Linked DNA regions of Homo sapiens. The protein of the gene in region 1 purifies or fractionates together with the protein of each later gene. This does not show direct contact. Each region holds a gene or a part of one and is shown on either strand. Other genes may lie near its edges. The genes, in order: ALDH3B2, COX16, NUBPL, SLC38A10, NFXL1, TIMM17A and PNKD.

What was found.
Region 2: the proteins of ALDH3B2 (region 1) and COX16 purify together in Homo sapiens (affinity purification with mass spectrometry, with the first as the bait; one large-scale study listed by BioGRID). This does not show direct contact.
Region 3: the proteins of ALDH3B2 (region 1) and NUBPL purify together in Homo sapiens (affinity purification with mass spectrometry; one large-scale study listed by BioGRID and IntAct). This does not show direct contact.
Region 4: the proteins of ALDH3B2 (region 1) and SLC38A10 purify together in Homo sapiens (affinity purification with mass spectrometry; one large-scale study listed by BioGRID and IntAct). This does not show direct contact.
Region 5: the proteins of ALDH3B2 (region 1) and NFXL1 purify together in Homo sapiens (affinity purification with mass spectrometry; one large-scale study listed by BioGRID and IntAct). This does not show direct contact.
Region 6: the proteins of ALDH3B2 (region 1) and TIMM17A purify together in Homo sapiens (affinity purification with mass spectrometry; one large-scale study listed by BioGRID and IntAct). This does not show direct contact.
Region 7: the proteins of ALDH3B2 (region 1) and PNKD purify together in Homo sapiens (affinity purification with mass spectrometry; one large-scale study listed by BioGRID and IntAct). This does not show direct contact.

The regions. Positions count from the first base shown.
Region 1 is NC_000011.10:67,664,624-67,668,123, forward strand, and holds part of ALDH3B2 (aldehyde dehydrogenase family 3 member B2), read right to left. Parts: intron 3,013-3,500; 5' UTR 2,850-3,012; intron 2,394-2,849; 5' UTR 2,313-2,393; coding exon 2,283-2,312; intron 2,072-2,282; coding exon 1,951-2,071; intron 1,779-1,950; coding exon 1,693-1,778; intron 1,581-1,692; coding exon 1,499-1,580; intron 1,049-1,498; coding exon 662-1,048; intron 1-661. UniProt on the Homo sapiens protein: Oxidizes medium and long chain fatty aldehydes in lipid droplets into non-toxic fatty acids.
Region 2 is NC_000014.9:70,346,184-70,349,683, forward strand, and holds part of COX16 (cytochrome c oxidase assembly protein COX16 homolog, mitochondrial isoform 1 precursor), read right to left. Parts: exon of another isoform or gene 145-3,500; intron 1-144.
Region 3 is NC_000014.9:31,669,404-31,672,903, reverse strand, and holds part of NUBPL (iron-sulfur cluster transfer protein NUBPL isoform 1 precursor), read right to left. Parts: intron 1-3,500.
Region 4 is NC_000017.11:81,250,308-81,253,807, forward strand, and holds part of SLC38A10 (solute carrier family 38 member 10), read right to left. Parts: intron 2,934-3,500; coding exon 2,766-2,933; intron 2,377-2,765; coding exon 1,888-2,376; intron 1,306-1,887; coding exon 1,186-1,305; coding exon of another isoform or gene 908-1,185; exon of another isoform or gene 563-907; intron 1-562. UniProt on the Homo sapiens protein: Facilitates bidirectional transport of amino acids. May act as a glutamate sensor that regulates glutamate-glutamine cycle and mTOR signaling in the brain. The transport mechanism remains to be elucidated.
Region 5 is NC_000004.12:47,883,584-47,887,083, reverse strand, and holds part of NFXL1 (NF-X1-type zinc finger protein NFXL1), read left to right. Parts: intron 1-1,084; coding exon 1,085-1,205; intron 1,206-1,426; coding exon 1,427-1,586; intron 1,587-2,646; coding exon 2,647-2,738; intron 2,739-3,500.
Region 6 is NC_000001.11:201,962,003-201,965,502, forward strand, and holds part of TIMM17A (mitochondrial import inner membrane translocase subunit Tim17-A), read left to right. Parts: intron 1-1,613; coding exon 1,614-1,742; intron 1,743-3,430; coding exon 3,431-3,500. UniProt on the Homo sapiens protein: Essential component of the TIM23 complex, a complex that mediates the translocation of transit peptide-containing proteins across the mitochondrial inner membrane.
Region 7 is NC_000002.12:218,340,019-218,343,518, reverse strand, and holds part of PNKD (probable thioesterase PNKD isoform 1 precursor), read right to left. Parts: intron 3,491-3,500; coding exon 3,378-3,490; intron 2,792-3,377; coding exon 2,733-2,791; intron 1,986-2,732; coding exon 1,893-1,985; intron 1,609-1,892; exon of another isoform or gene 1,539-1,608; coding exon 1,375-1,538; intron 20-1,374; coding exon 1-19. UniProt on the Homo sapiens protein: Probable thioesterase that may play a role in cellular detoxification processes; it likely acts on a yet-unknown alpha-hydroxythioester substrate.

The DNA.
Region 1 (3,500 bases):
GTAGAGGTGGGGACAGGGGCATGGGCCAGGGCTCCAGGCCAGGATCCCAAGGTCTGACTTCCCAGCGCTTCAGGCTTTGGAGTGTTTAGGGAAGAAAGTTTCCCCACAGCCCCCCAGAAGGGACCCTAGGGCTTCCCCAGCCTGCTCAGGGCCTGTGGGGCGCAGAGAATCCCCCGACCTTGGTCTCACAGTCAGGGGTGATGGGATCTTAGAACCTTGGAGTTCATGAGGCAGCAGCGTCCCAGAATGTTGGAGCTGCAGTGTCCCATGAGCTGCTGAGTCATACGGCCCAGGAGACTGGGGGCTCAGGATGGGGCCGTCAGAGTTTAGAACCTGGGGATCATGGGCTCGGAGAATCAGAGGTTACGGCCTTTCAGGACAGCCGGTGGTGGGATGGGAATTCACCTTAGCACGCTGGGCCCTGGAGCCCTGGAATCTGAGCTCAGTGAATCCAGGGCTGAGGGACCAGAGTATGGCCTCATGGGGCCACAGGCTCAGAAGCACAGAGACGGAATCGTGGCACCAGAGCCATGGCTCAAGGCCGGGCTCTGATAGTGGGGCCGGGTTTCAGGTGCGAGTCCAGACTCGTGGCCCAGCCGTGGGCCCTCCATTGAGAAAGGGTCTTGGCCCAGGTGGGCTGCGGTAGGGCAGCAGGACTCACCGATGTAGCGATCGCTCTCGTTGCTCTGGCCCCCAATGGCCACGCGGCTGCAGCCCAGCAATGCCCGCAGCCGCTGGAACTGTTTCTGGTTGATGATGTGGCCCAGGTTTGGGGAGCTCTGGGGGTCGTCGCCATAGAAACGGGTGATGGTGCTCTGCAGGGCGGGCAGCAGCCTCTCCTGCATCTCGGGGCTGCACAGGACGTAGTCAGGGGCCACGCAGGTCTGGCCGGCATTGAAGTAGCAGAACCAGGCCACGCGGTTGGCCACGGTCTGGGGGTCGCAGTTGTCGTCCACGTAGCAGGGGTTCTTGCCCCCCAGCTCCAGGGTGACAGGCGTCAGGTGCTTGGTGGCAGCAGTCATGACAATCTTGCCCACACGAGGGCTCCCTGGGCGTGGAAGGAAACCAGAGTGGCCAGTCAGTGACCTGGACCAGGCAGGATGGCCCAGCCCAGAGCCTGCTCCTCCCTGGAGAGGTGTTGGAGTCGGCGGGCTTCCTAGGGACATGGTGAGGAGACCCCATCCTCAACTGGCCTTGACCACACACTCCAGGCACCTGACTCTTGCCCGCTTTCTTCATAGAAAGTCCTGGCCCGCCTCACCCTTCTCCTGGCCGGTCTGGCTCACCCACTGGGACCTGCCTCCAGCCTGGCCACTCCTGGATCCAGTTGCTGCAATGTGCCCAGGGCGTGGCCTATGCAGGCAGACGGACTCTGTGCCAGCTCCAGCTCCCCACGTGCCCCCACTGCTGGCCCCAGCCTCCTCCCTCCACAACCCTCCCACCCTCTCTCCTGATGATCCCCTCCACCTACTCTGGGACCCTGGCCTGGCCCCCTCACCTGTGAAGAAGATGTAGTCCAACTTGTGCTCTAGCAGCTGCCCTGTCTCCTGGGGTCCGCCCAGCACCACGGCAAAGCAGCTCTGCAAGGTGGAATGAGAGGCTCGGGGCGGGCTCGGGGCCAGCCGGGCCTCCTCAGCCCACAGGGGTGATATATGGGGACGTCGGGCACTGCTGGGGCAGGGCCACCCTCACCTGGTCCAGGTACTGGGGCAGCACCTCAGCCAGGACCTTCTCTGTGCCCTGGCTGATTTCTGACGGCTTCAGCACCACGCAACTCCCTGCAGGGGCAGATGGGGACGTCGTTGGGGGAGCCCAGGGTCCCCATGCCCAACCAGGGGCTGGGCTCAGAGGGCATGTGAGGCCCAGGGTACCTCAGAGCAAGATTCCAGGGGCCTCTTTGGGAGGGGCTACTGGGCGGGGAGAGCATGGGGTTCGGAACGCCCTCCTCACCTGCGGCGAGGGCGCCCACCAGGAGCACCAGGGTCAGGTTCAGTGGGTAGTTCCAGGGTGCGATGATGAGGACCAGGCCAAAGGGTTCCTTCCAGATGAAGACCGAGTCCAGCTTCATGAACTGAGGCACAGGGTAGACAGTGAGGCCCTGCCAAGGGCCACCCCAAAGCCCACCCACTGCACACTTGGGGCCTCAGCTCCCTGTGCGATGGAATCCCAGGAGAGACGAGAAAATCAGTGACTCGCCCGGGGCCTCAGGGGCAGAAGGGGGCCTGGGCCAGAGCTACCCGGTGCCCTGCCCTGCCCTCCTGCCGCCTGCCAGCAGGGCTCACCAGGTTCGTGGACCGTGGTTCATCCTTCATCCAGGCCTGCAGGTTCTTGAGAGCGTAGTCAACCTCGTTCTGGCAAAGGATGAGCTCAGATATGTCTGCCTCGAAAGCTGGCTGTGGTGGAGGTGGAATTCAGAGTGGTCAGGCCCAGACCTGGGCCAGGAGGGGTCTAGAATTTGAGGAGGGCACACGCAGGCACCACCACCACTGGACATATAAATACAGCTCCTATGGGAGGCACTGCCGTCCCCTGGGAACTGCGCATGGCTGCAATTCTGATCTGTGACTTCCTGGCTGTGTGGCCTTGGGCAAGCGATGTTAACCCCTGAGTGCCTCAGTTTCCTCATCTGCAACATGGGGACAGCCATGGAGCCTGCATCACAGGGTGGCTGTGAGTGTTCAGGAGTGAAGGTCAGGTGCCTGCCACACTCCACATGCCAGGGAGGGGGTCTGTTAAACAAACAGGAATAAAACTAGGGACATAGCCAGTCACTAGGGGGCACGGGCCCTCCTGAAAGAGGACAGGGACGCTGCTCCAGCCCCTGCCGGGGCCCACTCTCCACGGCCCACCTTATGCAGGTCCTGGGCCAGCACGTCGCGCAGAAGCTGCTTGTTTTCTTGAAGGAAGTGGCCCAGGCCCTGGAGCTGCGCAGCCCGGAACTCGGCCGGCCGCGTGCGCCCTCAGTTGAAGGCCTCACGCAGCCGCCGCAGCGTGTCCTCGAAGGGGTCCATCCTGCCGGATGGGGTGGCTTGAACTGGGTGGCCAGGGCTGCCCCTCCTTCACGGGCACCCTCCAGCCACCCCAGGGTCTGCACACCCTTGCCCCACCTGCACCCATGGGGGCTCACAGACACCCCACCTCATACACACACAGACCCACTCGAATGACCCCACGGGGCTGGGGCTGCCTGCACCACCCCCAACTCACCTGCCTCCCAGGTGTGCCCATGAGGGAGGGCCCTGGGCTTGACCTCCCCTACTCCAGGGAGGGGATCCCCCTCCTGGACGCCCACCCTGGAAGCCCAACACACACACCTCGGGTGACCCTGCTGCCCACCATCCCAGCTCTTCCCTGCACCTCCCCTCCTTGCGCAGACACACACCCACCCACGCTGGCACCTTGCCACCCCTACACCCAGACCACTCAGATGGAACAGAGCTCTCCCCTGGGCCTCCCTCCCTTCTGGGACTAAACGAGGGACTCGGAGGGTTCTTTGCTTC
Region 2 (3,500 bases), on another chromosome or scaffold:
TCGGTGCAAGCTTCAGAAGCTTGATGATGGCCCTCAAACCTCACAAGACCGTCTTAATTTAGCCTTCATAGTCTTTAACAATCGTGATAGGGAAAGTAAAAGGCAAAAACAGGCGGAGTTTCAAATGCTTGCCTCCGCCATCAGGGGCCCTGCAGGCCCACGGGTCCGCAGCTCCACACGGAAGCCTCCTAGCAACCTACCTCCACTTGGCACCTTTTCAAGTGCGGCAATGAAGGCCACTGGTCCAGACAATGCCCAAATCCAGGTAAGCCCACCAGGCCATGCCCCCTCTGCAGAGGACCCCAATGGAAATTGGACTGTGAGCGGCCCCTGCAAGGGCGGCCCCATCACTTCCTAAGCCGGCCAAAACCTCCTACTTGGATCTCATTGGCCTTGCCGCTGAAGATTGATGGTGCCCTGGAATGGATGCCCCGGCAACTACCATCGCTTCATCCGAGCCAAGGGTAACCCTGATGGTGGCAGGTAGGCCAGTATTTTTTTTTTAATTAATACCGGGCAAACTACTCTGCTTTACCTAATTTTTCAGGACACACCCAGTCCTCCCTTTTCTCCGTTGTGGGAATTGACAGACAAGACTCCAAACCCTGAGCCACCCCTCCACTTTTCTGCTCCCTGCACACCTTTTCCTTCAGTCACCCTTTCTTAGTCCTGCCCTCATACCAGAGACATCCTTTCAAAACTCCACACTACTCTCCACTTGCACATTCCCCATAGTACCCAACGCATCAACCCAGACCCCTCGGGGCATCTAACTTTCTTCTACTCCTCCAACCTGCCACCTTAAAACATGCAACTTTACCTTATCCCCCATCCGTAGTTAACCCCGCTGTTTAGAATATTTCCACACCTTCAGTCGCAAAACACCACACCCCCGTCCGCATTACCCTTAAAGAGTCCACCCAGTTCCTATCACAGAAGCAGTATCCCATCCCCCAAGCAGCTCTCATAGGCCTAAAGCCTATCATTTCTCGCCGCCTCACCAGTCACCTACTCCACCCAAGAAACTCTCCTTTTAACACACCAGTTCTACCTGTTTAAAAGCCAGATGGAACTTATCACTTAGTCCAGGACCTCAGGCTCATTAACCAAGCTGTACTCCCAGTATGTCCAGTAGTTCCTAACCCATATACTTTACTTTCTGCAATTCCCTCCAATACCACCCATTTTCCTGTTCTATACCTAAAGGATGCTTTTTTCCACAATTCCTTTACACCCTGATTCCCAAAACCTCTTTGCCTTTACATGGGAAAACCCCGACACCCACCTTTCACATCAGCTCACCTGGTGCGTACTACCTCAAGGTTTCAGAGACAGCCCCCATCTTTTTGGACAGGCCCTTGCTCATGACCTCTGTACCTTATCCCTAAAACCGTCCACTCTCCTTCAATGTGTTAATGATCTGCTCCTGTGTAGCCCCTCTCAAAGAGACTGCAACGCCCATGCTATCTCTCTCTTTTAAACTTCTTGGCAGAACGGAGGTATCGGGTCTCCCCTAAGAAAGCACAAATATGAGCCCCCTTAGTCACTTATCTAGGCCTGGCTCTTACCCCATGAACCCGAGGGCTCACAACCGACCACATATCCCTCCTCCAGTCTCTCCCACCTCTGCAAACTAAGCAAGAAATTCTCTTTCCTAGGACTAGTGGGATATGTTAGGCTCTGGGTTCCCTCCTTTGCTCTACTTGCCAAACCATTATACCAAGACACTAAAGGCCCTCTCCATGAGCCTTCAAACCCTGCATAGCCTATTACCCAACCTTTCCATCTACTCCAGAAGACTCTCATCTCAGCCCCCATCCTCACTCTCCCAGACCTCACCAAACCTTTCTCCCTCTATACCAACGAACGTGTAGAGTTGCACTAGGTGTTCTAACCCAGTCTAAGAGACCCACCCTCCAGGTTATCGCCTACCTCTCCAAACAGCTTGAAGCCACAGTTCTCAGATGGTCTGCCTGCCTCCAAGCACTGGAGGCAGCTGCTGTCTTCATCCTTGAAAGCCTAAAACTATCTCTCCATGCCAACCTAACAGTTTATTCAACCCATAATATCAAAGACATGCTAGCTCACCACAGTGTACTAAGTCTCATCTCTGCCCCACGGCTCCTCCAACTGTATGCTCTGTTCATAGAAACCCCCCAAATCACCGTGCTAACCAGCTCTCATGTAAACCCTGCCATGCTCTTTCCTGAAGCTACAACCGCCCAATACCCTACACACTTCTGTGTGAACACTGTTCAAACCTTTCTTACACCTTTTCCAAACCTAACAGCCCAACCCCTTCCAGATGCCTCCTTTACTTGGTTTGTAGATGGCAGCTCCTTCCTATGTCAAGGATGCCGGCATGCTGGCTATGATATAGTGTCACCCCCTCACACACACTACTGAAGCCAATCCGCTCCCCCAGGCACCACCTCCCAAAAAGCTGAATGCACTGCTCTCACTCAAGATCTCACTCTAGTAACCAGACAACAAATTAACATATATTCAGATTCTCATTATGCGTTCCATATAGTACACTCACACTCGTCTATGTGGAAAGAACAAGGTTTTTTAACTGCAAAAAACACTCCTGTCATAAATGGCTCTCTTACCAGCAAGCTCCTTCAAGCTGCCAGACTCCCGCAGAAAGCTGCCTTCATTCATTGCAGGGGCCACCAAACCCGGGACAATCCTATATCGGCTGGAAATGCGCTAGCAGATCAGGTAGCCAAACAAGTAGCCCTGCAACCCATGCAAGGCCAGTTTCTGTCCCTGTCCTTGTTCTCTCCTCTTTACTCCTCAGAAGAAAAGGAGGACTTCTGAGCCCAAAACCTTCAAAAGCAAGGACCATGGTATGTCAAGGAAAGGCACTTCATTCTTCCTCACTCTCAAAGCCTTCCTCATCTCCAAAGCCTCCCCAACACTTTCCATGTTGGTTACAAATTCTCTTGCAACTTCTCCGCCCTGTTCTCACTTGTCCTCACCTTTCCAGCTATGTTCAAGATATTACCCAGTCCTGCTCTATCTGCCACTCAGTGTCACCCCAGGGCTCCCTCCGGCCACCGCCTTTTCCTACCCACCAAGCCCGGGGCCAGATACCCAGGCACGATTGGCAAGTAAACTTCACTCACATGCCGCCCAATAAACAGCTCCGCTATCTTCTAGTCTTGGTCTGTACCTTCTCCAGGTAAGCAGAAGTGTTCCCAACAACTTCAGAAGGTGCAAATGTCACACAAACTCTCATCATGCATATAATTCCCCATTTCGGCCTCCCAACATCCATCCAGTCCGATACAGGCCCACCTTAATCAGCCAAATTATCCAAGGCGTCTCTACGTCCTTAAGAATAAAGTAGGTTCTCCACACACCCTACAGGCCTCAATCTTCAGGCAAAGTTGAAAAAATGAACTCTGTCCTTAAAGCCCAACTCACCAAGCTGGCTCTAAAAACCCAGCAGTTGTGGACAAAAAAAATCTCCCTTTTGCCCTCATAAGGCTCTG
Region 3 (3,500 bases), on another chromosome or scaffold:
TTGTGCAATTTAACTTTCAACTAAATATAACTCAATTTGCAACAGTTTAAACATTATACCAAGCATACTATTTCCAATAGACACAACATTGATAAATAGTTGGGACATAATTGTATTAAGAAATACTTCAAATACAATTTTAAATATGTTTCTAAAAAACAGCCTCAATACCAGGCACAGTGGGAGGCCAAGGTGGGTGGATTACTTGAGGTCAGGAGTTCTAGACCAGCCTGGCCAACATGGTAAAATGCTGTCTCTACTAAAAATACAAAAATTAGCTGGGCATGGTGGTGCACGCCTATAGTCCCAGCTATTCAGGAGGCTAACATGAAAGAATCGCTTGGACCTGGGAGGCAGACGTTGCAGTGAGCCCACATTGTGCCACTGCACTCCAGCTGGGTGACAGAACAAGACTCTGTCTCAAAAAAAATAAATAACCTCAATAAAACAACTCAACTACAATTTTAAAATGTTTCTAAAAAATAGCCTCAATAACTAATTTTGTCCAATTTTATTCATATACAAAGATACATAAACATATAAATTATATATATGCTAATCTAATATGTGCATACATGTATGTGTATATTTGCATGCACACACACACACACACACACACACACACACACATATCTAATCAGTCCTTCCTACACTGGAGTGTTACTACTTATTTGTTCCTTTACTTAGCTTAAAAAGTATAAAAATCCACAAAAGTAGAAAAACTCAATTTTGAAATCTGAGATGAAAAATTGCATTAATCTGTAGAGAAAAGCAATCTATTGCTTATAGTGAAGTAAAAAAATCCTTTATATAGTCAACAAATGATTACAATAAAATATAATTTGTTTTATCAAACTATCTATGCAATCACCTTCCCACTCACTCTTGCTTTCATATCCTACTTCTCTACCATAACAAATATGATTTGGACAAGTATTGGGCAAAAAGTCTAGGACAAAGTCATAAAACCTAGGAGTATCCTGTTTTCAGATTTCAAGATATGTTCTTCAGGGTTTTTCCCCTCTTGTCAAGAGACTGAGACTGAAAACTGTGTAAAGCATATATGCATGGATTATATAAGAAATCCTCTGCCATATTCCATTCATTGAATCCCTACTCAAAGAAAAAGCCGTGGTCCTTCATTAAAGGAATACTCAATGAGTGTATGTTTATAGTTTCCTTCTTTAATTTCTGGCTAAACTAACTAGCTCAATCTCCCCATACCTAATTTGAAAGCACTATTTTTCTTCTATGTGATTTTCTCAATTCTTTCCAAAGCATCCAATTATAACCTTTCGCTATCACGGTTGGCAATATTTTTGGCCATTTTCTTCAATTACCATATGAATACAGATTAAAGAATCTGAACTATCACATGCTTTTTCACCTTTGATCTGCTAAAACGGTGAGTTACACTAAGAGATTTTTCCTAATTTGGAAACAAACTTGCTTTCCTGGATTAAACCCAATTTAATTATAATGCAGTTGTTTTATAGAATGCTGAATTTGGTCTGCTAATATTTGCTTAATGTGATATCAGTATGTCAAAGAGATATCTGCACTCCTATGTTTACTGCAGCACTATTCGCAATAGTCAAGATATGAAATCAACCTAAATGTCCAACATTAGATGAACGTATAAAGAAAATTTGGTATATAGACACAATAGAATACTATTCATCCATTAAAAAGAATGAAATCTAACTAACTAGGGAGGTGAAAAATCTCTACAATGAGAATTACAAAACACTGCTCAAAGAACACAGAGATGAGACAAATAAATGGAGAAACATCCCATGCACATGGATAGGAAGAATCAATAACATTAAAATGGCTATACTCCCCAAGGCAATTTACAGATTCAATGCTATTCCTATCAATCTACCAATGACATTCTTCACAGAACTAGAAAAAACTATTTTAAAATTCATAAGCAACCAAAAAATAGCCCAAACAGCCAAGGTAATCCAAAGCAAGAAAAACAAAGCTGGAGGAATCATGGTACCCAACTTCAAACTACACTACAGGGCTACCGTAACCAAAACAGCATGGTACTGGTACAAAAACAGGCACATGGACCAATGGAACAGAATAAAGAGCCCAGAAATAAGGCCACACAACTACAACCATCTGATCTTCAATAAAGCTGACAAAAACAAGCAATGGGGAAAGGATTCTCTATTCCATAAATGGTGCTGGGATAACTGGCTAGTCATAAGTAGAAATTGAAGCTGGACCCCTTTCTTACACCATATACAAAAATCAACTCAAGATGGATTAAAGACTTAAATGTAAAAGCCAAAACTATAAAAATCCTGGAAGACAACCTAGGTATTACCATCCTGGACATAGGAATGGGCAAAGATTTCATGACAAAGAAAGCAAAAGCAATCACAACAAAAGCAAAAATTGACAAGTGGGATCTAATTAAACTTAAGAGATTCTGCACAGCAAAAGGAACTATCAACAGAGTAAACAGACAACCTATAAAATGGTAGAAAATATGTGTAAACCATACATCTGACAAAGGTCCGATATCAAGCCTCTATAAGGAAGTTAAATTTAGAAGAGAAAAACAACCCCATTAAAAGTGGGCAAAGGACATGAAAAGACACTTCTCAAAAGAAGACATACATGCAGCCAAAACACATATGAAAAAAAGATCAATATCACTGATCATGAGAGAAATGCAAATAAAGACCACAATGAGATACCAACTCACACCAGTCAGAATGGCTATTATTAAAATATCAAAAAATAACAGATGTTGGCAATGTTACGGGGAAAAGGCAACACCTACACACTGGTGATGGAGGTGTAAATTAGCTCAACCATTCTGGAAAGCATATGGCAATTCCTCAAAGAGCTAAACACAGAATTACCATGCAACCCAGCAATCCCATTACTGGGCATATACCCAGAGGAATATAAATCATTGTACCATAAAGACACATGCACACAAATGTTCACTGCAGCACTATTCACAATACCAAAGACATTAAATCAACTTAAATACCCATCAATGACAGACTGGTTAAAGAAAATGTGGTACATATACACCATGGAATACTAGGCAGCCGTAAAAAAAAAAAAACAAAAAAAAAAACCAAGATCATGTCTTTTGCAGGAAGATGGATAGAGCTGGAGGCCATTATCCTTAGCAAACTAATGCAGGAACAGAAACCCAAATACCACGTGTTCTCACTTACAAGTGGGAACTAAATGATAAGAACTTAGGGACACAAAGAAGGAAACAACAGACAGTGGGGTCTACTTGACGGGAAAATCGGAGGAGGAAGAGAGGAAAAAATATAACTATTGAGTACTAGGTTTAATATCTGGGAAATGAAATATGTACAACAAACCCCTGTGACATGTGTTTAGCTAAGTAACAAACCTTCATATGTACTCACAAACATAAAATAAAAGTTTAAAAAAAAAAAAGCAAAGAAAAGGAAGGAAATTCTGTCATTTTCACAAACATAAATAAGCCTGGAGGA
Region 4 (3,500 bases), on another chromosome or scaffold:
CCTTTTGGCTCTGCCTTCCGCGCTGCAGGTGCAAGGAGGGCGAGCTGCACCTGGAGAAGCCAGGCCGCAGCGACTGGGACGTGGCTGCTGCACCTGCCCTCCCTCGGACCGGCTGTCCTGAGGCCACAGGGCAAGATGCGCGGGCAGGAAGCGTGTGTCTTACGAACATCCTGGGAGGTGCCCGTGCCAGGGCTGGCCCGGAGCTCCCACACCTGCTCCCAGGGGCTTGGCACAGGAGGCTGGAGCGGCTGTGCCCTGCGACCCCCACACAGATCCCTGGAACAGACCCTCTCAATGCTGAGGCACACGTGGACCCCGCATGGGGCAGGGTTGACCATCTTGAGAGAAGGCTTGGACACTGCCACCAAATGCACGTGACTTTTGGTGAGCGGGGGCCCAGCCACACACCCTCAGAGGGCGGGTGGACCCCTAGCCTGGGAGAGGACATGGCACAGAAGCCTGTCCCCAGCAGGCTCACAGACGGGGCTGCTGCTACCCAACTGCATGAGGCCACAAGGAGGGGTCGCAAAAAGCCAACAGCTGAGACCCAAGGGGCGAGAAGTTTGGAGGAGGATTCAGAGCAAGTTTTATTCTCAGGAGAGCAAAGGCGTAAGGAGCTTTCCTGGAGGGACAGGTGACAGATCCCTGTAGATGAACACAGCCGAGCTCCGAGGCCCGAGGGTGTGGGAGCAGTGCTCTGGGCCAGGGCTATGCTAGGACCAGGGCGGGCACAGCCACCCCCAAACTGGGTCCCCTTGGGGCACAGCCTTAAAATAAACCTCCACATCTGGGTGCAGGCACGCCCACACCTGGCTGGCTTTAAATACTCCGAGTGTTAAAACTGTTAACAAACCTGCTTTAAAGACGAAATGGTAATCACAAGCCAAGTGACAATGCCGCAGGTGTTTTAAAGGGGAGCAAGGGAGATAAAACGGTAATCACAAGCCATGTGACGATGCCGCAGGTGTTTAAAGGGGAGTAAGGCAGATAAAAGGTTCCCAGAAAGCAAGCTGCTGATGGGAAGGGAGCAGAAAGCTCTCCGAGGGGTCTGCTCAGCAGGCGGCTGGAAAGAGAAGGGGGGCCTGGCAGGGCTCCCGAGGATGACCTGGGCATCACCCCAGGGCTGGGGGAGGGGGCTGCCGCTCCCTGGGCCTGAGGCAGGCGGCTGTAGGGCGGAGGCCTTACCCTCCAGCTGGCTGGCCGCCTGGTTTCCACCCGCTCGCTCCACGTCCCTCTGCTCGCGAGGCTCGGGCGGCAGCCCAGGCCCTGGAGCCGGCTTCTCCGCTGGGAGGGGAGGCTTCCCACCTGCACACACGGTGAAGACTCAGAAGGTTTTGCAGGAAAGTCAAGGGAGGGTTTGGGGGGTTGGGGGACAGAAGGCAAGGGCGGGACAAAAGGAAGTGGCAGATGTTTCTAAAGTGACACCCCCGTCAGCACAGTTTATATTCAACCTGATGATTACTAGCGAAGCAATAAAAAAATATTTAACAACCTCATAGGCTTGTGGCAATGAGCCAATGGTAACTGCCTTCGCAATTAAAATGCAAGAACTGTCCTAAGCAGCTCTTAGACGGGCACTTAACAACGTGTTACCTGTCAGGCGCCCCCCGCGCCGCCCCCCGTGTGCGCCCAGACACACGAGCACAGCGCGGCACCTGACATTTAGTGGTCTGGCAAACAACTGTGTGACAGATATTACAGTAGCTGTCAGCCACCAGCCTCTTCCTGTCCCCACCAGCTGCCGGGGCCCGCTCCATTTGCATGCTAATCTGGTGCAGGGAGAGAGACTGGGGACTGAGGGAGGAACCATCGATTCTGCTGCCCCTGCCCAGCCTCCCCAGCCCAAGAGGGGAGTGTCTTCCGACACGAGCCCAGGCTGACACCCACCGTGGTCGCTGTCCTCTGCGGGCTGCCCTGTGTCCCCGGCGGCGTTGCCTGGCGGCGGTCCCCCCTTGGCCTTTTCCCCTCCACCCACCGCCAGGCCGTTCTGCTGCTCAGACAGCACTGCCTGGGGCCGAGGATGCAGGCCCCTGTCTCCTGGCCCCAGGTCCTCCTTTGCAGGCTGGACAGCTGGCTGACCATCTGCTTCTGGAACTTTCTGGGGATCTTCAGGAAGATCACCCGCCTCCTCCAAGGCCTGGGCCTGTCCAGGCCTCTTCCCAACCTCTCCCTGCTCCGGCTCTTGTTTCTCTCTTTCTGAGTCGGGCAGAGGCGGCGCCATCTGGCCCTGGACCCCTGGAGCCTTTCCGCCCGCGTGTCTGGATGGAGGTTTGTTCTCTTCTGGCACCTCTCGGTCTTGGCCTTCATCTACCACCACCTTGTCGTGAGGAACAGGAGGCTCGTGGCGGTGGGCCTCGCCCACAGGCACAGCAATCCCTGCAAGGGCACGGGGGACAGATGGGGTCAGGCTGAGGCCCCTCCTTCCCTTCCCAGGGAATTAGAACTGGGTTCTTCCCTGGGTTCTGGCTCCCAACAGTGTGACACAGGCCAACAGATACCACCTCCCCTGCCGGCCTCCCTGCTGCCTGGCCAAGCACAGCTGATGCTAAAGTTCAACAGGGGCAGCTGCAAACAAGTTGCTCTGGGAGGGGCAGGACATTCATCTGAATTGAAAGACAGAGAAAACAAAAAGGACCAGAACTTAGGCTGGGCTGAAGGGAAAAAGATACACACAGCCCTGAGAGCCACCCCGCAGGGTGTCCAGCCTGCAAAGGAGGACCCGGGGCCGCCCTTCCCCATCCGCACCCCCAGCCAGTGCCCAGCACCTTGCCCAGGGCGATCGAGCTGTGCCTCCTCCGGTGCCTCCTTGCCATCTTCCCGTCCAGGCACATCCACGGGCCCCTTGATCTGGGCCTGCTCCAGCTCCTCTCTCTCCTTCGGCAGCTTCGGCTTCTCCCGGCCATCCTCAGCCACGGCCACAACCGGATCCTGGGCTGGGAGCAGGGCACAGTTAGGGAACTGCACTGCCAAGCAGCTCCAGGAGCGGGGCAGCTCTCCCTGGACTGTTACCATATTTTCCAGCCAAATGGCAGAGTCAAAGCAGTTTCTTTTTCCTGTTCGATCATTAGCAGCTAAGTAGCACAGAAAACTGTCATTTTTCATGTGTATTCACAACAAAAATATGTCAAAATGCGATTTACACCTAACTGGGGGCAGGGAGAACTAGACTCCATGTAATACTCAGTCATTACCACCAGATGGCGGCACGAGCCCACCGACCCACTCTCCCACAGTCCCCTCCATTACCATCACCTCCATCATCACCGTCATCACCGTCACCTCCACCACCACCACCACCATCACCGCTATCATCACCATCATCTCCATCCCTACCACCATCAACATCACCATCATCACCATCATCTCCATCCCTACCACCAACATCACCATCATCACCATCACCATCACCATCATCACCATCTCCATCCCTACCACCATCACCATCATCATCACCGTCACCATCATCACCATCTCCATCCCTACCACCATCACCATCATCA
Region 5 (3,500 bases), on another chromosome or scaffold:
ACCCATAACAAAAGAGCGTAAAAAGCTGAAACCAAAATAACATTTTTTTTTATGTTTAGAAGAGAAATATTTGGGATTATATCCTAAAATGGTGGCTTAGTACTTAGTCTTTCACAAAGCACAATTAATGGAAAATTGACTGTGCTTGCTACTAACCAATATCAGGTCATGAGAAAGAAGTTATTGGGAATTCATCTAAAAATTGTGTACTTGGATAGATGTATGAAAGTAGGCCAACGATATTATTGTTAATGTTAAATTTTCCAAAGACTTAAATCCATTTTTGCTTGTTTTAGTTTTGAATGAGTAATGTGTTAAATTTGTTATTTAGAACAGAAGTTTTAGCACATTTTAGAGAAATGTCTAAAACTTTATGAGGTACCAGTGTACAGAGAAAAAAGTGTTATAAATCAGAGGCTGGGTGCAGTGGCTCACGCCTGTACACCCAGCATTTGGGAAGCTGAGGTGGGAAGATTGCTTGAGTCCAGGAGTTTGAGACCAGCCTGGATGACATAGTGAGACCCCTCCATCTCTATAAATAATCAAAAATTAGCTGGGCATGGTGGTGTGTGTCTGTAGTCCCAGCTACTTGGAAGGCTGACGTGGGAGGATTGCTTGAGCCCAGAAAGTTGAGGCTGCACTGAGCTGTGATCATGCAACAGCACTCAGCTTGAGCAACAGGTTGAGACCCTGTTACAAAAAAAAAAAGAGAAAAGTATTACAAATAAAAAGTATACAGCTTGTTGAATTTTTACAAACTGAACATAGCCAGGTAACCAAAACTTACATCATTAAACAGAACATGACCAAAATTTTCAACACCTTCCTTGCATCCTTCATAGCTATCACTCTGATTTTGAACAGTACATTTTTTCTTGTTTACTTTATATAAATGGAATCATGCACTATGTACTCCTTGTGTCTGGCTCAATGTTTTGTGGTAAGATTCATTCATGTTGTTGTAGTTTCTTCATTCTTGTTGTAGAGTATCCCATTGTGTGAATATACTAAATTTATGTATTTTACCATTAATAGGCATTTGGGTAGTTAAGGAAACTTTTTAATTGTCAGACTTTTTTTTCAGGCAGTTGCTATCCCTGCCCAGAAACCGTAGATGTGAAGTGTAATTGTGGCAATACAAAGGTGACAGTGCCCTGTGGCCGAGAACGTACCACAAGACCACCCAAGTGCAAGGAGCAATGCAGGTGAGTTTGAAGCTTTGCACAAGCTTCCATCTGATGTTGTACAAATTTAAATTCATATTGGCTTTTAATAATTTAATTTTGCTTTAGTGTTTTAAAATATTAATATTCACAGTATACTCATTCTATATGGAATCAGAAGATATGTAAATAGATAATTGTCCTTTAGATGTAATTATTCAATGACTAAAAGTAATTTTTGAAAATTGTACTTTATGATTTAGTCGACCACCAACTTGTCATCATACAAGTCAAGAAAAACATCGCTGTCACTTTGGTTCTTGTCCACCATGTCATCAACCTTGCCAAAAAGTTTTGGAGAAATGTGGTCACTTGTGTCCTGCTCCGTGTCATGATCAAGCATTAATAAAGCAGACTGGCAGGGTAAGGGAATAATACTATTAGAGAAATAGTGCATTGCTGTGGGTTGTACTTTCTTGCTTTTACTTAGTTTTTCAATGAGCAATGATTAAGCACTTATTGGGAAGCACTGTGCTTGGAGCAGGGTACAAGGTAATCAAGACTTGATTTTGTTTTAAGCAACTCACAGTGTAGGAAAGGAGTGAAACCATTGTTTGCAAATACAGTGTGATAGTTACATTATGATCATGATACAGGTGAATTTGGCAGTCCTCCTTCATATATTGTGGTTTAGGGTTATAGATATCTCCTATAATCTTATTTTAAAGATTTATTCACTTTTTAATATTTTATTTAATATTTATTTATTTTTAGTTATTTAATTTTTTTTTTTTTTGAGACGGAGTCTCACTCTGTTGCCCAGGCTGGAGTGCAGTGGTGTGATCTGGGTCACTGCAACCTCCACCTCCCGGGTTCAGTGACTCTCGTGCCTTAGCCTCCTGAGTAGCTGGGATTATAGGTGCCTGCTACCATGCCCAGCTAATTTTTGTAGTTTTAGTAGAGATGGGGTTTCAGCTTGTTGATCAGGCTGGTCTCGAACTCCTGACCTCAAGTGATCTGCCCGCCTCCGCCTCCCAAAGTGCTGGGATTACAGGTGTGAGGCACCACGTCCAGCCCAGCCTCATGAACATTTATTGAGCCCTTACTAAATATCAAGCTTTTTTTTAGGTGCTGAGGAACAACAGTGAGTAAAATGATGGAGATTATATTCAATTGCTAGATGTTGGAGTTTCCAATTGTTTTTCTCATTTCCTTATTGGAAGTAAAGGAGGCTACACTGCCTTTGTTCTACCATTTATAAACTGGATTCTGTCTCAGTTATTAATATCAAATGTCTGTGGAGAGGAACAATTTCATTTAATACAGATAAAATGAAATATTTCAGTAAGCACAATTTATTGATTATTTGAAAAAATTTCAACCTGCTTGAGCAGAGGATACATGGAACTATTTTCTTAGATTCTTAAAATGGCCATATGATTTAATCCCTCTGACTTAAAATTCTTATGTATTTTATTTGTAGCACCAGCCTACAGGCCCTTGGGAACAGCCTTCTGAGCCAGCATTTATTCAGACTGCATTACCGTGTCCTCCATGTCAAGTTCCTATTCCTATGTAAGTATTAGAATTTCAATTAAAAAAAAAAAACAAAAAACTTTTGACATAGCTTAAAGGGTATCTGAAGTCAATCTCCCTTTTTTCTTAGTTCAGTTCATTATTATTTCAGGCCTAGCCTATCAACTAGTGTGTCTGTCTTAACCTTCATTCTTTTCAAACATGTTTGTCATACTTGCATATAAACCTACTATAGATATCTTTTTTTGAGTCTTTACCCCCAGTTGGAGTTTGATGCCCTTCTTAGCTTTCCATAGCGAGTGCATGCAATTACAAAAACAAATCCAAGGAACATCATTTGTTACTTTTCCCGATGATTCCCATACTGGATTGTAAGCTCCCTGAAGACAGAAGAAAGCCAGGTTTTAGATAAGGCAAACTTGGGGAATATTTAAAGGAAGCCTTGGAAATGAGAGGAAGTAGTTTCCTGGATGGGCCAGTGAATGACTGGGACTGAGCTCTAAGGAGCTGAACCTACAGTAATACGGAATCCTGGAATTTTTTATACTTCCAGCAGAGGTTATGGAGTATAGGGGAAAAAGCACAGAATGCTGAGAAGCAACATAAAGTTAGAAAAGGGGCTGTTGTCTACAACTGAGGTGCCAAATTAAACATTGGTATTTCTGGTGTATTGGTCTTTTAAAGAGAGGATTGTTTTTGTTTTTTAATTCTAAAAGCTTTCATTTCCACAACATTCCTCCCAGTTGAAATAGCATGTATATTTTTGTGTATTGGTCACACAGTCAAGTTGGGAGGCAAAGT
Region 6 (3,500 bases), on another chromosome or scaffold:
GGCTCTGGATCCTCACACCAGGCTACCCTTTATGGATCTCCTCCTCATCCTGCTTAGACTCAAATTCTCCATTCTCATTAGTAGCCAACACTTATTCTGGCAATGATTCTCAGGGGAAGGGTCTCCTGAGATTTTAGGCTCATGAGGAAATGGGAGGGTCTTGTCAGAAAATTTTAGTGAGGTAATTCTAATATACCTAGACGTCATAGCTCTCTCCCAGGGCATAGAATTACTGAGTTAGAAGAAATAACTGGTTTGTTTTTACATAGGATGTGATGTCTAATATTGTACTAAAAATGAGGATGCTTATGCTATACTCCACTGGTACTATCCACTGGATTTATTTATTTTTTTTATTTTTTGAGACGGAGTCTCGCTCTGTCGCCCAGGCTGGAGCACAGTGGTGCAAACTTGGCTCACTGCAAGCTCTGCCTCCTGGGTTCACACCATTCTCCTGCCTCGGCCTCCAGAGTAGCTGGGACTACAGGTGCCCGCCATCACACCTGGCTAATTTTTTTTGTATTTTTTAGTAGAGACGGGGGTTTCACCGTGTTGGCCAGGATGCCCTCGATCTTCTGACCTCATGATCCACCCGCCTCGGCCTCCCAAAATGCTGGGATTGTAGGCGTGAGCTACCGCACCTGGCTGTTTTTGTATTTAGATAGAGTTTAAGTGCAAAGTAATCTGCTGATTTAAGGTTGTTTTAAATTCATATCTGAGGAATAAAGGATGGACAGGCAATTTCCATCCCTTTGATGTTCCATAGTTCTAGCTATTTATATCATTCATTTGCCCCTTCAGCATGGATTGGCTTACACCTGTAATACGTTCCAGAATAGCTGGATTTCTTTTGTTTTCCCATCGGTGATTTTCATAGAGTAGATGCTCAATGACATATAATGCAGAAAGGCCAAAAATAGAGGTAAGTAAAGCTATGAAAGAAAAGAAGAACGAAAGAGGAAGCAGAGTAGTTTGATTTTGTTTATTGCTGCTTAAACCAGAGAGATATGTTATTCTGGAAGGGTGATTTGCTTGTTTTTACACATATGCAGCCTGACTGTTTTAGGCTTGGCTTCTTTTTTGTTTGTTTGAGATGGAGTGTCGCTCTTGTTGCCCAGGCTGGAGTGCAGTGGCACGATCTCGGCTCACTGCAACCTCCGCCTCCTGGGTTCAAGCGATTCTCCTGCCTCAGCCTCCCCAGTAGCTGGGATTACAGGTGCTCGCCACCACACCCGGCTAATTTTTACATTTTTAGTAGAGGCGGAGTTTCGCCATGTTAGCCAGGCTGGTCTTGAACTCCTGGCCTCAGGTGATCCACCCACTTCAGCCTCCCAAAGTGCTGGGATTACAGGTGTGAGCTATGGCACCCGGCTGGCTTATTTCTTATAGGCTTTGGGCCGTTGCTAATTTTCCAGCTGATATAATACAATCCAGCTTTATTCGAAAGATAAGTATTCTAACTCTTGTTCGGTGTTTATTCAAACTTGTGTTTGCATGTATTTGTTTGGACTATAAATTTTGAGACTATAGTGAGTATGTTTTTGACTATAATATTTTAAATGGAAGATGAAATTTAAATTAGTATTTGCTTGTTTCTTTTTACAATAAAATAGGTAGCTTTGCAGTTTGGGGAGGGCTGTTTTCCATGATTGACTGTAGTATGGTTCAAGTCAGAGGAAAGGAAGATCCCTGGAACTCCATCACAAGTGGTGCCTTAACGGGAGCCATACTGGCAGCAAGAAGTAAGTAGTCATTACAGACATACTAGTAGAAGCCACACTTTTAGGAAAACCTCATCTGCCTCAATTGAATGACATCTGTAATATATAAAACTGATTATTGACCAGGCACATTGGCTCATGACTATAATTCCATCACTTGGGAGGCTGAGGCAGGTAGATTGCACAAGTCCAGGAGCTTGAGATCAGATATAGGGAGACCTGGTCTCTACAAAAAAAAAAATTTAATTAGCTGGGTGTGTTGGTGCATGCCTATAGTCCCAGCTACTCATGAGGCCGAGGCAGGAGGATCACTTGAGCCACCGCACTCTCACCTGGGCAACAGAGTGAGACCCTGCTTCAAAAAAAATAATAATTATAAAACTGAGCATTGTTTAATTTGGCATAGCATAAATATACAGTATATGGTGATTTGAAAAAAAAGTAAGGGGATCTATTTATTTGGAATATTTGAGAATGAAAGAGCATGGAATTCTAACCCATATATTACAGTGGTTGAGAGCACTTCAGGTCCCAGTTCTGCCATTAATTAGCTGTATGACTGGTCAGTTTACCAAACTTTTTATGCTATAATTTCTTCACCAGTAATCTGGAGTTAATTAATAATTACACCTGCCATATAGAGTTGTTATGAATAAGGAACTTAGAACCATCTTCTGGATCCTCAGGACAGAGAATTCCTTTGAGCTTAGTGGTTTAGACCAAGGGATTTGCAAACTATTTCTGTAAAAGGCCAGATAGTGAATATTTTAGGCTTTGTGGGCTGTGTGGTCTTTGTCATAGCTACCTAAATCTGCTGTCATAGCATGAAAGCAGCCATGGATAATACATAAACGAAACAGTATGGCTGTGTTTCAGTAAAACTTTATTTATTTATTTATTTTATTTTATTTCTTTTTTTTTTTTTTTTTTTTTTTTTTTTTTTGAGACTGAGTCTCACTCTGTCGCCCGAGCTGGAATGCAGTGGCGCAATCTCGGCTCACTGCAAGCTCTGCCTCCCGGGTTCAAGCGATTCTCCTGCCTCAGCCTCCCGAGTAGCTGGGACTACAGGTGTGTGCCACCACGCCTGGCTAATTTTTTGTATTTTTAGTGGAGACGGGGTTTTACCATGTTAGCCAGGATGGTCTCGATCTCCTGACCTCGTAATCCACCCACCTCGGCCTCCCAAAGTGTTGGGATTACGGGCGTGAGCCACTGCGCCCGGCCCTATTTATTTATTTATTTTCTTGAGACGGAGTCTTACTCTGTCACCCAGGCTGGAGTGCAGTGGCACAATCTCGGCTCACTGCAACCTCTGCTTCCTGGGTTCAAGCAATTCTCCTGCCTCAGCCTCCTGAGAAGCTGGGACTACAGGTGCCCGCCACCACGTCAAGCTAATTTTTGTATTTTTAGTAGAGACGGGGTTTCCCCATGTTGGCCAGGCTGGTCTCGAACTCCTGACCTCATGATCTGCCTGCCTCAGCCTCCCAAAGTGCTGGGATTTATGGCCTTTCAGTAAAACTTTATTTACAAAAATAGGCAGTGGGTGGACTGTGGGTGGCTGTAGTTTACTGACTCTGGGTCTTAGGCAATAAGAAAGAGTTTGGGAGTTGGGGGAGCATGTCACCATATGGACAGTTCTCTTCTTTACTATCTCTTACAGTAAACTAGATTTCTGTAAAAAATAATCTCTTTGTTATTAATGTCTTCAGATGGACCAGTGGCCATGGTTGGGTCAGCCGCAATGGGTGGCATTCTCCTAGCTTTAATTGAAGGAGCTGG
Region 7 (3,500 bases), on another chromosome or scaffold:
TTGCCCTCAAAGGTCCGCCCTGGGTGGGGGTTGGAGGGTATGTCACAAGGTGCCAGGATAACACAATATGGCATAAGGCACACCCAGACAGGTGGGAACCAGCTTGTAATGCTCTGGCTGGCCGTCAGCCCTGACTGTGCACTTTCCAGACCCACCCCAGGCATCTATTCCCTCCTCACTGGGAACTGGGCCCAACTGGTCACCCCCTGACCAAGCCCATCCGAGGCCTCCGTTGCACACAGTGACACCTGAAGGGAGGGGCTGTGGAATCTTCGGGCTGCAGGCCCCAGGCTTGGTAGACGCAGGGCTGCTCTTTCCCACGGAACACTTCTTCGCCTAGGCTGCCCTTTGGGATTTCATGCAGCCTGGGACTTGTGATCCTCACCCACCCACTCACCTAGCTGTTCTTAACTTTTCATAACCTAGTCCTGCCAGTCACTGTATCAGAGAACCAGTCTCCACCCAGGGGAAACTAATTCCCTGCAGGGCTTTACTCAGCTACAGACATTCTCCCATTCTGTCCCGCAGCTGGCAGAAGTCTTTTTTATTTTTGAGACAGAGTCTCATTGTTGCCCAGGCTGCAGTGCAGTGGCACAATCATAGCTCACTGCAACCTTGAATTCCTGGGCTCACCACCACACTGGCTAATTTTTGTATTTTTTGTAGAGACGGGGTTTCACCATGTTGCCCAAGCTGGTCTTGAACTCCTGGGCTCAAGCAATCCACTTGCTTTGGCCTCCCAGAGTTCTGGGATTACAGGCCTGAGTCACTGCTCCTGGCCTATATTATTTATATTATTTAAATTTTTTTTTCTGTTTTGTGACAGAGTCTCACTCTGTCTTCCAGGTTGGAGTGCAGTGGCGCGATCTCAGCTCGCTGCAACCTCTACCTCTCGGGTTCAAGCAGTTCTCCTGTCTCAGCCTCCCTAGTAGCTGGGATTACAGGCATGCACCACCATGCCCGGCTAATTTCTGTATTTTTAGTAGAGACGGGGTTTCACCATGTTGACCAGGCTGGTCTTGAACTCCTGACCTCAGGTGATCCTCCCACCTCAGCCTCCCAAAGTGCTGGGATTACAGGCATGAGCCACCACGCCTGGCCTATTTTAAAATTTTTTTGTAGAGACAGTCTTGCTATTTTGCCCAGTCTGGTCTCCAACTCCTAGCCTCAAGTGATCCTCCTGCCTCAGCCTCCCAAGGTGCCCCAAGGGAAGTCTCAAGGATTAAAACCAATCTGAGTAACACAGATGGAAGTAACTGCCACGGCAACATCTGTGCTAAAACTAAGGCTTCAGTGCTCTCCATGGGACTGTGGCTGCCCTGGCTTCTGTCTCTCCCTCCTCTCCCAGCTCCTCTCTCTTTCGGGGAAACTCACCACAGCCAGAGAGGAAGAGCAGGTCCCCTGAGAAGAGGCAGGAGGGACCCTTGTAGGGCTCCCCATCCAGTAGGTAGACCAGATGGCCTTGTGTGTGGCCAGGTGTAGCCAGGGCCCGGATCTGAAGCCGTCCCACGCTGACCACATCTTGATGACACAGGGGACTGGGGAACAAGGGAGCAGGGGACAGAAGGTATTGGATCTGTGCCATGCTGATCCCTGTCCCCATCCCAGGCCCAAGGGGCTGGGTGATTCACAAGAGAGTGGGCTTCCATACAAAAGAAGTCACCCCAGTGCCTCGGGTCTCAGGTCCGAACCCTCCCCCTTTCCTCTTTTGGGGACTATGGCTGGATCAGTTGGGGGATGGGCAGTGCCAGTCTTCAGATAGGCTGGGATTGGGCCAGGAAGGGCACTGGCAAAGATCCACCTGCTGATACCCCTGAAACACTTCACTGAAGGCTGGGGGTGGGGGAAAGGGCCCATGGAAGGGCCATCCCTTGCCTAGGTCAGGGACTTACTGGGTGAGGTAGGGGATGCCGTCCTGAGGGCTCCCGTACACCCGACAGTCCCGGTGCCGCCGGCTGAGGTCACGGTTCCCTCCACTGTGGTCCCTGCAGGACAGCAGAGACAGGCAGGGGGCTTCGAGGGGCAACTGTACCTAAGCCCCCTTCTTTACCACAGCATCTCCAGGCCTTTAAGTGCTGGGGCTGTGGCTTCTGGACTAAGCCAAGTTGTCCACACCTCTAGGCCTTTGTTCAAGCTGTTCCCTTGCCCAGAACATCGCCCCCAACAACTCAAGCTGGCCAATGCCAGCCGAGCTTCCTGAACCCTCAGCTCAGGTCATCATCTTTCAATTCTCCAAGTGGATCTGATCACACCGTGCCTGGGCCTCCCATCCCTGTTCCCTGTGCCAACTGTTACCTAAATATCACATACTTCTTTTTTGAAGACAAGGTCTCACTATGTTGCCCAGGTTGGGCTTGAACTCCCAACCCTCTTGCCTCCGCTGTTATATACTTTGATACAGGGCTACCTCCCCTATTGGTCTTAGAATTTCCTTGATGGAAGAGTCATAACTTTTGTCCATGCCCAGTGTGCAGTAGGTATCTAATACATGCCCATGAAATGAAAGAGAAATGACTGCCCTGCCCTCTGGGGCTTCAGAAGCTTGATCAATGGAGTGGTGGGAGACTGTCCCCTCTCCTCCCTCCCTGCTGGTGTCCAGGTGACTTCACGAGGAAGGCGGGTGCCGGCCCGTACTGACTTCTTGATCTCTGGCCCCGGCCGTCCTCAATGGGCCCAGTCCTGGCAAGCCCAGCTGGGACAAGGGTGGGCCAGGGAAGACGGGAGCCCCTTACCAGTGCTTGTGAGTACACAGAATGGCGACCAAGGTGACCCCTTCCTTTTCAATGGAAGCCTGCGAGAGAGAGGAGGTTTGGAGACTGGGGAGCAGGATGCAAGAGGCACTTGAAGCAGCAAGAGCCAGGAGTGTGGGCGCTGGTGGAGAGGAGAGGAGAGCATGGAGAGATGAAGCAGAGGAAAGGGATGGAGCTGGAGGGGAGAGATCCAGGAATGTGAAGCACGGGGCACATGGAGGCAGAGGGACACTTGTACATAGAGAGAGGCAGACACAGAGAGATAAGGAATGGGAGGGAAAGACAGAGAGACCCAGATACTGACAGACAGAGGTGACAGAAAGAAAGGGGGTCTGAAGGGGGCCAATGGGAGTGAAAGCCAGCCTGGAAACTCACTAGACCCAGAGTCCTGGGCCAACACCCCCAGCCCTCTGGCTCTGCATCCCCCACTCCTGCTCTCCCCTTCTGCCCAGCCATGCCCTGTACCCCCCTTCCCCAGGCTATGTGTGCGCATGTGCACGTGTGAACATGGAGCATATGGGACACATCCCACGGGCAGACGGACAAGGGTCAGCCCTCTCTAGCAAGGCGAAACTGCCAGTCCCCAAGGTGACTCCAGGCACCCCCTGCTCCCTGCCCTCCCCTCACCTGCACAGCCCGAGGGTCTGAAGGGTCCACAGCCACAGCCAGCTGGGCCTGGGTGTCGATGATGAGGTAGCTGTAGTTGTCCGAGAGGACAGGGATGGGAAGCACCTTCACTCCTGGGGACAG